Homo sapiens: one gene and its partner. The protein of the gene in region 1 interacts with the protein of each later gene in a biochemical or structural test. Each region holds a gene or a part of one and is shown on either strand. Other genes may lie near its edges.

What was found.
Region 2: the proteins of WDR33 (region 1) and WWOX form a complex in vitro, tested with the Homo sapiens proteins (one study listed by BioGRID).

What each region holds. Positions count from the first base shown.
Region 1 is NC_000002.12:127,716,876-127,720,695, forward strand, and holds part of WDR33 (pre-mRNA 3' end processing protein WDR33), read right to left. Parts: intron 3,479-3,820; coding exon 2,390-3,478; intron 389-2,389; coding exon 280-388; intron 1-279. UniProt on the Homo sapiens protein: Essential for both cleavage and polyadenylation of pre-mRNA 3' ends.
Region 2 is NC_000016.10:78,106,054-78,109,873, forward strand, and holds part of WWOX (WW domain-containing oxidoreductase), read left to right. Parts: intron 1-2,369; coding exon 2,370-2,434; intron 2,435-3,724; coding exon 3,725-3,782; intron 3,783-3,820. UniProt on the Homo sapiens protein: Putative oxidoreductase. Acts as a tumor suppressor and plays a role in apoptosis. Required for normal bone development. May function synergistically with p53/TP53 to control genotoxic stress-induced cell death.

The DNA of each region.
Region 1 (3,820 bases):
CTGCATTGCCAACAGATGGGCAAGGCCAGCCTGCCACACAGGCACGACTGCTGGAGCCTGTGCGGGTGCCTTCATTGTCAGCCTCTGGGGTGAGGGGCTTACTAAACAGATCCAAGAACACAACCAAAGACAAAGCTCCTACCTGAATGACCACACCCTTATTTTGCCCAGAGGTTCAAATGACCAGTCTATCAATGACTGGCCAACAAAATTATTCACTGTAAAATGTGCACAAAGGTGGTAGAATATAATCTTTTATTCAGCTGAGCAGATATTTACCTTTGTTGGGGCCAGGTCCTTGTCCGGGGTTCAGAGGGGGAATGCGACCTTGTGCTCCCTGCTGCCCTAGGCCTGGTATCAGGGGTGGGGGGCCTGTGCTCTGTCCTTCCTGAAAATATGTTTTTAAAGTAAGGGTATGAAATCACAGGCTTGAGCTACATAAATAGTGATTGCATTATAACATGACAAGATAAAAATACCCAGTAAATATTTACCTAGTAAGATTACAGTAACATTGTCCTTAAATCAGGAGAAAGGAGATACTTCTTTTACTATAATAATTTTTTTAAAGCACCTGTATTTTAAACCTGTTGACAACTTTTATGTAAAATTAGATCTTTACTCGTAATGCCAAAAAAGAACATCAATGGAAAGTCAGAAATTCTAACACAGCAGCACTAAATTAAACCAATTAAAACAACTGGTTTAAGTAACTGGTCTGGTTAAAGTGAAGCAACTTAGATTTCAGCATATGAGAAATAAGAGCACAGATTTTCATCAGGCAACTTCTGAGATCTGAAATGCCCTACAAAGTATCAGATCTTCAGACTCATTCTACCAGTATTTCTATAGGTCAATTAAAATTTCAGAATCATGCTTCCCATGTATAAAATCTTTTACTACATGGTACAATAAAAAATCTCATTGAATTATCCCAGAAACTCAGGCATGTCCTTGTGACTCTGACATGTTTATAAATATTTCAGTTATAACACAGTAGCTAAAGTCCATTATTTTTTTAATCCTCCAAAATGAAAACTGTTAATTTACTACCAGAAAGTTAGGAAAATAACTTACAATAAATAATATTATACACACATACAACTGAGCAGTAAATTAATAAAATATATAATACTTCAAGTTTTAGGGCAATTTAGAATGGCAATCCTATACTTAATTCATCCTAACTTCTGAGAAGTGCTGAATAAAAATCTGGAAATAACTCAGACATCATCAGATTCTCCATGACTACGACACTTTTAGGTTCTGGAAGACCTACTTTAGAATAGTAGATAATTTATTTGTTTTAGCTTAGTAGTTGAGTTCAGGAAACCCAATGGTCATCTTTACATTAGGGATTCGTGGTGGTATTTGAAAAACCAAAACAGACTGTGCTTTCTACATCTGTAGCATCCCCTTTCTCCAAGTGTCTCAGGGAGTCAACATTAGCTGACTCGCTCACTTTTGGTCCACACTGGACCAAAAGTGAGTTTTCAGGGACAAAACTCAGTTATTCATACCCAAATAATGCCTCCAGACTAAGAACTTGAGAAAAGCATAAAATGCACATAGCTGAGCAGTATTACATCTATTTATGCTCATGCAATTCTTTTCGTAATTCACTCCCCCAAGCAACCTGAACTTTCCTCACACCATCTCTCAAGCACGAGCTCAGCGCATGAGCAATAAAAATTGGCTAACAAAAACAGAATCCTCAAAGAAGGAGAATTTCTACAGAAATGCTCCCCCCTGCAAATACTTTTATATGTGAGCTGAAAACAACTTGAGCAGAGTTTCATCCAAAGGGTCACCATTTCCAGAATGCTCAATTCTGGAATAACAGTCTCTTTATTTCTATTCACTGTAATAAACAGAGTGAGGTACAGAGTCTATAGTATACTCATGAGTTAAATATCCCATCCTATCTTTTAAAAGTAGAGTTGGCAGACAGGAAGTGATTCTGTGGCTGGCAGGCCCATGGAACACCAGGCTGCAATGTAAAGGGCCCAGAAAGGAGGCATGACAGCCTCAGAGCCGACCACCATGTAAAACATGCTTCCTCCTCAGGGCCACAGCTCTCCTGGAGCCCTGGGACAATTATCAGCTGTACTCAAATGAGAGTTGACCTTTTCTGAAGAAACTCTATTACCAAAAAAAGAAAAATGGTGAGAAGTAAAAATGAATACTGAGATGTACTTAATGGGAGTATAACCTAACTCATCATTCTTATGATTTCATTCTTCAGCCAGGATGCTAGTATCTTAAGCTACTGTCACTACTTGATAAGTATTTATATCCAGCTGTGACCATTTTCCACAATACTCAGCAGTATTACTTCTGTGCAGAGTGTATTTTCCCAATGTGCCCGTGAGTTGGAAATGAATAATACCTGGTTGAAGGGGGCCCGGGGCCCATCACCTAGCAGAGGCGTTTTCTGTTGCTGGAATGGTATTGGCCCTTGAGATGGATGTGGCCCTCTTGCTGGGTTCTGCTGTCCCTGAGGTCCGGGGGGTCCTTGCATGCCACCCTGGGGTGGAGGTCCTAAAGAGCCCTGGGGCGGCCCCTGCTGACTTTGTGAGCCTGGAGGCCCTCGCAATTCCTGGGGAGGTCCCAGCATTGATCCTTGGGGTGGAGGCCCCTGCATGCCTCGGATCTCCTGAGGACCTCTCATTTCCTGAGGGCCGTGTCCCAGTAGTCCACCTGGAGGGTGAGGTCCTCTCATCTCTTGAGGCGGGTGGCCCATAATCATCCCTTGGGGAGCAGGACCCTGGTTCTCCCGGGGGCCTGGAGGCCCCTGCATTCCTCTTGGATTCAATCCCATCAGAGGTCCCTGAGACACAGGACCTTGGATCCCTTGAGACCCTGGTCCGCCTTGGATCCCATGAGGATGAGGAGGCCCTTGCATTCCTCTGGGACCAGGTGGTCCCTGCATACCTTGAGTACCCGGAGGCCCCTGTGGGCCCAAGTGACCCTGAGGGCCAGGCGGGCCTTGGGGGCCTATGTGACCCTGTGGGCCAGGTGGACCCTGAGGACCCATATGACCTTGAGGACCAGAACTACCTTGTGGTCCAGGTGGCCCTTGAGGTCCCAAAGGGCCATGAGGTCCAGGATGCCTCTGCATTCCTTGGGGCCCATGCATGTCCTGAGGCCGTGGCAACCCCTGGGGCGGGCCCTGGGGCCCCTGTGGTCCCATGAATCCTTGTGGCCCCCCACCTCCCTGATGCAGTGGAGGACCTTGTGGTCCCATTTGTCCCTGGGGTCCAGGAGGCCTAAACTGTCCCTGTGGACCTGGAGGCCCCATTTGAGCCATGTTCATTGGCATCTGCTGAGATGGATGGGGCTGTTGAAAACCTTGAGGAATCTGAGACATTGGACCTTGTCCTGGAAAAGGCTGGGGTCCGAGGAGAGGGGTGCCAGATGAGGGAGGAGGCTGAATTTGCTCAACTTGTTTCTGTGCAAGTCTTTCAATTTTAAGTTGCTGGAAAGAAAGAAAGAAAAAAGCATGTTGAATAAACAGGCCAGAGCCCTTGAAGATGACAATATTGCTATCATGTATTCTGTTAGGGGACTCTCAAACATAAAAACTGCTCAAACTCTTCACGCTCCAGTGGTAATTAGAGTCCATGCAACACTCAAGCACTGTAAGGAGTTTTAGGTTCTTTCTCATTCTTTTTAAGTCCTGGGACACAGTAGTAAGGATTTTTTTTTCCTTATTTTTTTTTTCTGTCCCCCAAGCTGGAATGCAGTGGTACGATCGTGGTTCACTACAGCCTCACCCTCCTGGGCTCAAGTGATCCTCCCACCTCGGCCTCCGGAGTAG
Region 2 (3,820 bases), on another chromosome or scaffold:
GGCCTCCCAAAGTGCTGGGATTACAGGCGTGAGCCACCGTACCCCGCCACTCCATGGATTCTTGAGGGCAGAGTTTTTTGGAGCCAGGCTTCAAGCACATTTGATGTGTGCCTATGAGATAAAGACTGCTTTTAATGGCAGGCAAGGAAAATGCAAGTCCATCTCTTAACTTTCTTGAAGAAGCTTGAGACACAGCTCTGCAAGGGGCTGGAAGGTTTCATGTTATTGCCAATGCTTGGTTTATCTGATTGCTGTTGCCATTCATTTTGAAGGAGAAGCAGGAGTTGGTATACCAATATTCCCACTGTGCCAGCAGAGAGCGGGTTATCCTTACTAGAGAGCCAGAGAGTCAGAACGGTTTTTTTTTGTTTTTTTTTTTTTTTTTTGAGATGGAGTTTCACAATTGTTGCCCAGGCTGGAGTGCACGATCTCAGCTCACCGCAGCCTCTGCCTGCCGGGTTGAAGCAATTCTCCTGCCTCAGCTTCCCGAGTAGCTGGGATTACAGGCATGTGCCACCACGCCAGGCTAATTTTGTATTTTTAGTAGAGACAGGGTTTCTCCATGTTGTTCAGGCTGGTCGCGAACTCCTGACCTCAGGTAATCCGCCTGCCTTGCCCTCCTGAAGTACTGGGATTACAGACATGAGCCACCGCGCCCGGCCACAGAGCTGCTTTTTTTTGCAAGTGATATTGGATGGTGGTTGATGTACAAAGTAGGAGTTTGTCCTTGCTACTGATACCGTAGCTGGTACAAGGTTTTAATCGTTCTCCAAGCACTGTCACAGGTGTCATGTGTCTCGCCTTTTCAGCAGCTCTGTGAGGTGGCAGTAGCCCTGAGGAGACTGGCTGGACTCAGCTAGCATGGGCTGCTCAGGTCTTCAGCGTGCTGAGTGAGGCATTCCTGCACTATGACAGAGACCCAGCTGCCAAGACTTTGTCAAACAGACCAGAAGCCAGCAGTTCATGAAAAGACCTTGCTTGCAAGTTGTAGAATTTTTTAGAAAATTCGTGCTCTCTGTATTTATTTTCTGTAAAATAATTGATAGGGAAAGAATGTTCACATCTTATCATCTAGATGTTGCTGATTAAATAATATAACTTTCTGGGTTGGCATGAGTAGGTGAACTTTTAGGAAACGCAGCCTACCCTTCGAATACCTCTTGTAGCACCTGGCTGTTTCCCTTTTGAAATAATTGTATGTTTTCCTGGATACCTTATTACCTGGTGACACGTGTTTCTAGTTATTGACCTATGTTTTTAATTATAACTTTGGGTGGTGGTCTGAAATGAAATGTTAAGTTTGACGCAAAAATAGGACTAGTTTGTGTAACTGATTTGTTCAGAATAACAGCTTACATTTCTCAGAGCTTTTTGTATGCCAAGTGCTATGCGAAACCCTGGATGTACAATATTCTTATAGTAGCCCCTGAGACCAGTGCTAGGATTATTTCCATTTTGCAGATGAGGGGATGGAGATTAAGGAGTGGGGTCACTTGACCAAAGGTGCACAGCGCACAGCTAGATGCCCTATGGGAAGGTCTTACTGCATCTCTTAACTACCTCTTGGGACCAGTTAGGAACCAGTGCTTAATGAAACACTTTGAAGTTACATCTGTGGAAAGAATAAACATTTTAGCTGGGCAAGGTGGCACGGGCTTCTAGTCCCAGCCACTCAAGAGGCTGAAATAGGAGGGTTACTTGAGTCCAGGAGTTCCAGTCCAGCCTGGGCAACATAGTGAGACCCTGATTCTTTAAAAAGAAACACAAATAAATAAACATTTTAAGAGATTATATAAATTAGATATTATGAATTTTGTCCCTACATCGTGGAATAAAACCAAAACAAATACACAGCAAAATGCCTCTAGATTTATTTATTTATTTATTTATTTTTGAGACAGAGTCTTGCTCTGTCGCCAGGCTGGAGTGCAGCGGCGTGATCTCGGCTCACTGCAACTTCTGCTTCCCTGGCTCAAGCGATTCTCCTGCCTCAGCCTCCCGAGTAGCTGGGACTACAGGCACGTGCCACTGTCCCCAGCTAATTTTGTATTTTTGGTAGAGACAGGGTTTCACCATGTTGGCCAGGATGGTCTCCATCTCCTGACCTTGTGATCTGCTCCCCTAGGGCTCCCAAAGTGCTGGGATTACAGGTGTGAGCCACCGCTCCCGACGGCCTCTAGATATTTTGAGTGATTCAGCAAACCTCCTAAAGTTGACCCCGTAGCTGGGGTCACAGTCCTCTTTCTCCTTCTTCCCCCTACTTCCTTCTTATATCTGGCTATCTGGGAGAGAAAAAATTTAATACAATTGATTACTTTTTAGAAGAGTTAATTTTTACTTATTACTGTGGATTTTTTGTTTTTTAACAGTCACACCGAGGAGAAGACTCAGTGGGAACATCCAAAAACTGGAAAAAGAAAACGAGTGGCAGGAGGTTTGTATGTTGTTGTCTAAGGATCTTGGATGGAAGCATTAAGTAGATGAGGAAATGTCACTGGCAGAGAGGTGACAGGTTATTGTGTGTTTAGGGAGGGCTCTCTGGTAGAGAACCAGACTCCCACTCTGAGGAGCTTATGGGATTTGGCAGAAGAAGATGATGAGATCATAGGGTGGAGTGAGGATGATTTCTTACTGGTCTTAAAGTACCAAAATGGCCAGATGTGGTGGCTCATGCCTGTAATCCCAGCACTTCGGGAGGCCGAGGCGGATGGATCACCTGAGGTCAGGAGTTTGAGACTAGCCTGGCCAACATGTTGAAAGCGCATCTCTTCTAAAAATACAAAAATTAGCTGGGCATGGTTGCATGCGCCTGTAATTCCAGCTACTTTGGAGGCTGAGGCACGAGAAGTGCTCAAACCCAGGAGCTGGAGGTTGCAGTGAGCCAAGATCACACCACTGCGCTCCAGCCTCGGTGACAGAGTGAGATGCTGTCTGAAAAATAGCGACAACAACAACAACAAAAACCAGAAAATAATTGAGGCCTTTGATTCACAGTTTATGATGTTTTCCTATCGTTGCAGTGTTTATAAAATTGTTCTTGGCTATACTATGGAATTAAATATATAAGTATTTGGAAATTTCGTAAAGATTACCATGACTTCTAGGTGATTCTGAGATAATGTATGATCCACGGAATAGAAGTATAAGAAAGGGACAGGCACGGTGGCTTGTGCTTGTGATCCCAGCCCTTTGGGAGGCAGAGGTGGGAGGATCACTTGTGCCTGGGAATTCGAGGTGAGCCTAGGCAACATAGTGAGACCCCATCTCAAAAAAAAATATGAGAAGGTTCCTGCCCTTAAGAGGTTTAGGATCCAGCTGAAGAATCAACATGTGCACATGAAAAAAAATGGCCGTGCCCTCTAATGTCATATGAGGTCAGCGTATGAATGACGTTGGGTGCCTGCCCTGCATATACATATGTTCTTTGAGCTCATTCAAGGGAGAATTCCCATGGATTGGCACAACCAGTATGGTTTATAGAGCGATCAGGAATAAAATAGGTTTTCTTCAAAACAAGAGGCAAAAATGTGGAGCCCAGGGTGGGATCAGGGGCCTTCTGCAGCTGTCGCAGTTGGAACATGTGACGAAAGCCAGTTGATGTGACAACTGCTGGGTGGGAGGGACAGGCTTGGGGGCGGGGCTGGGAGGGCTCCTTCCCTTCCTGACCCAGGGATGGTCTTTACTTCTCCCTGGCACCTGTAGACCTGTCTTTCTTGTGTTTCAGATTTGCCATACGGATGGGAACAAGAAACTGATGAGAACGGACAAGTGTTTTTTGTTGAGTAAGTGTCTGCAAAGAAACCACTCTCAGCTGTTTTGC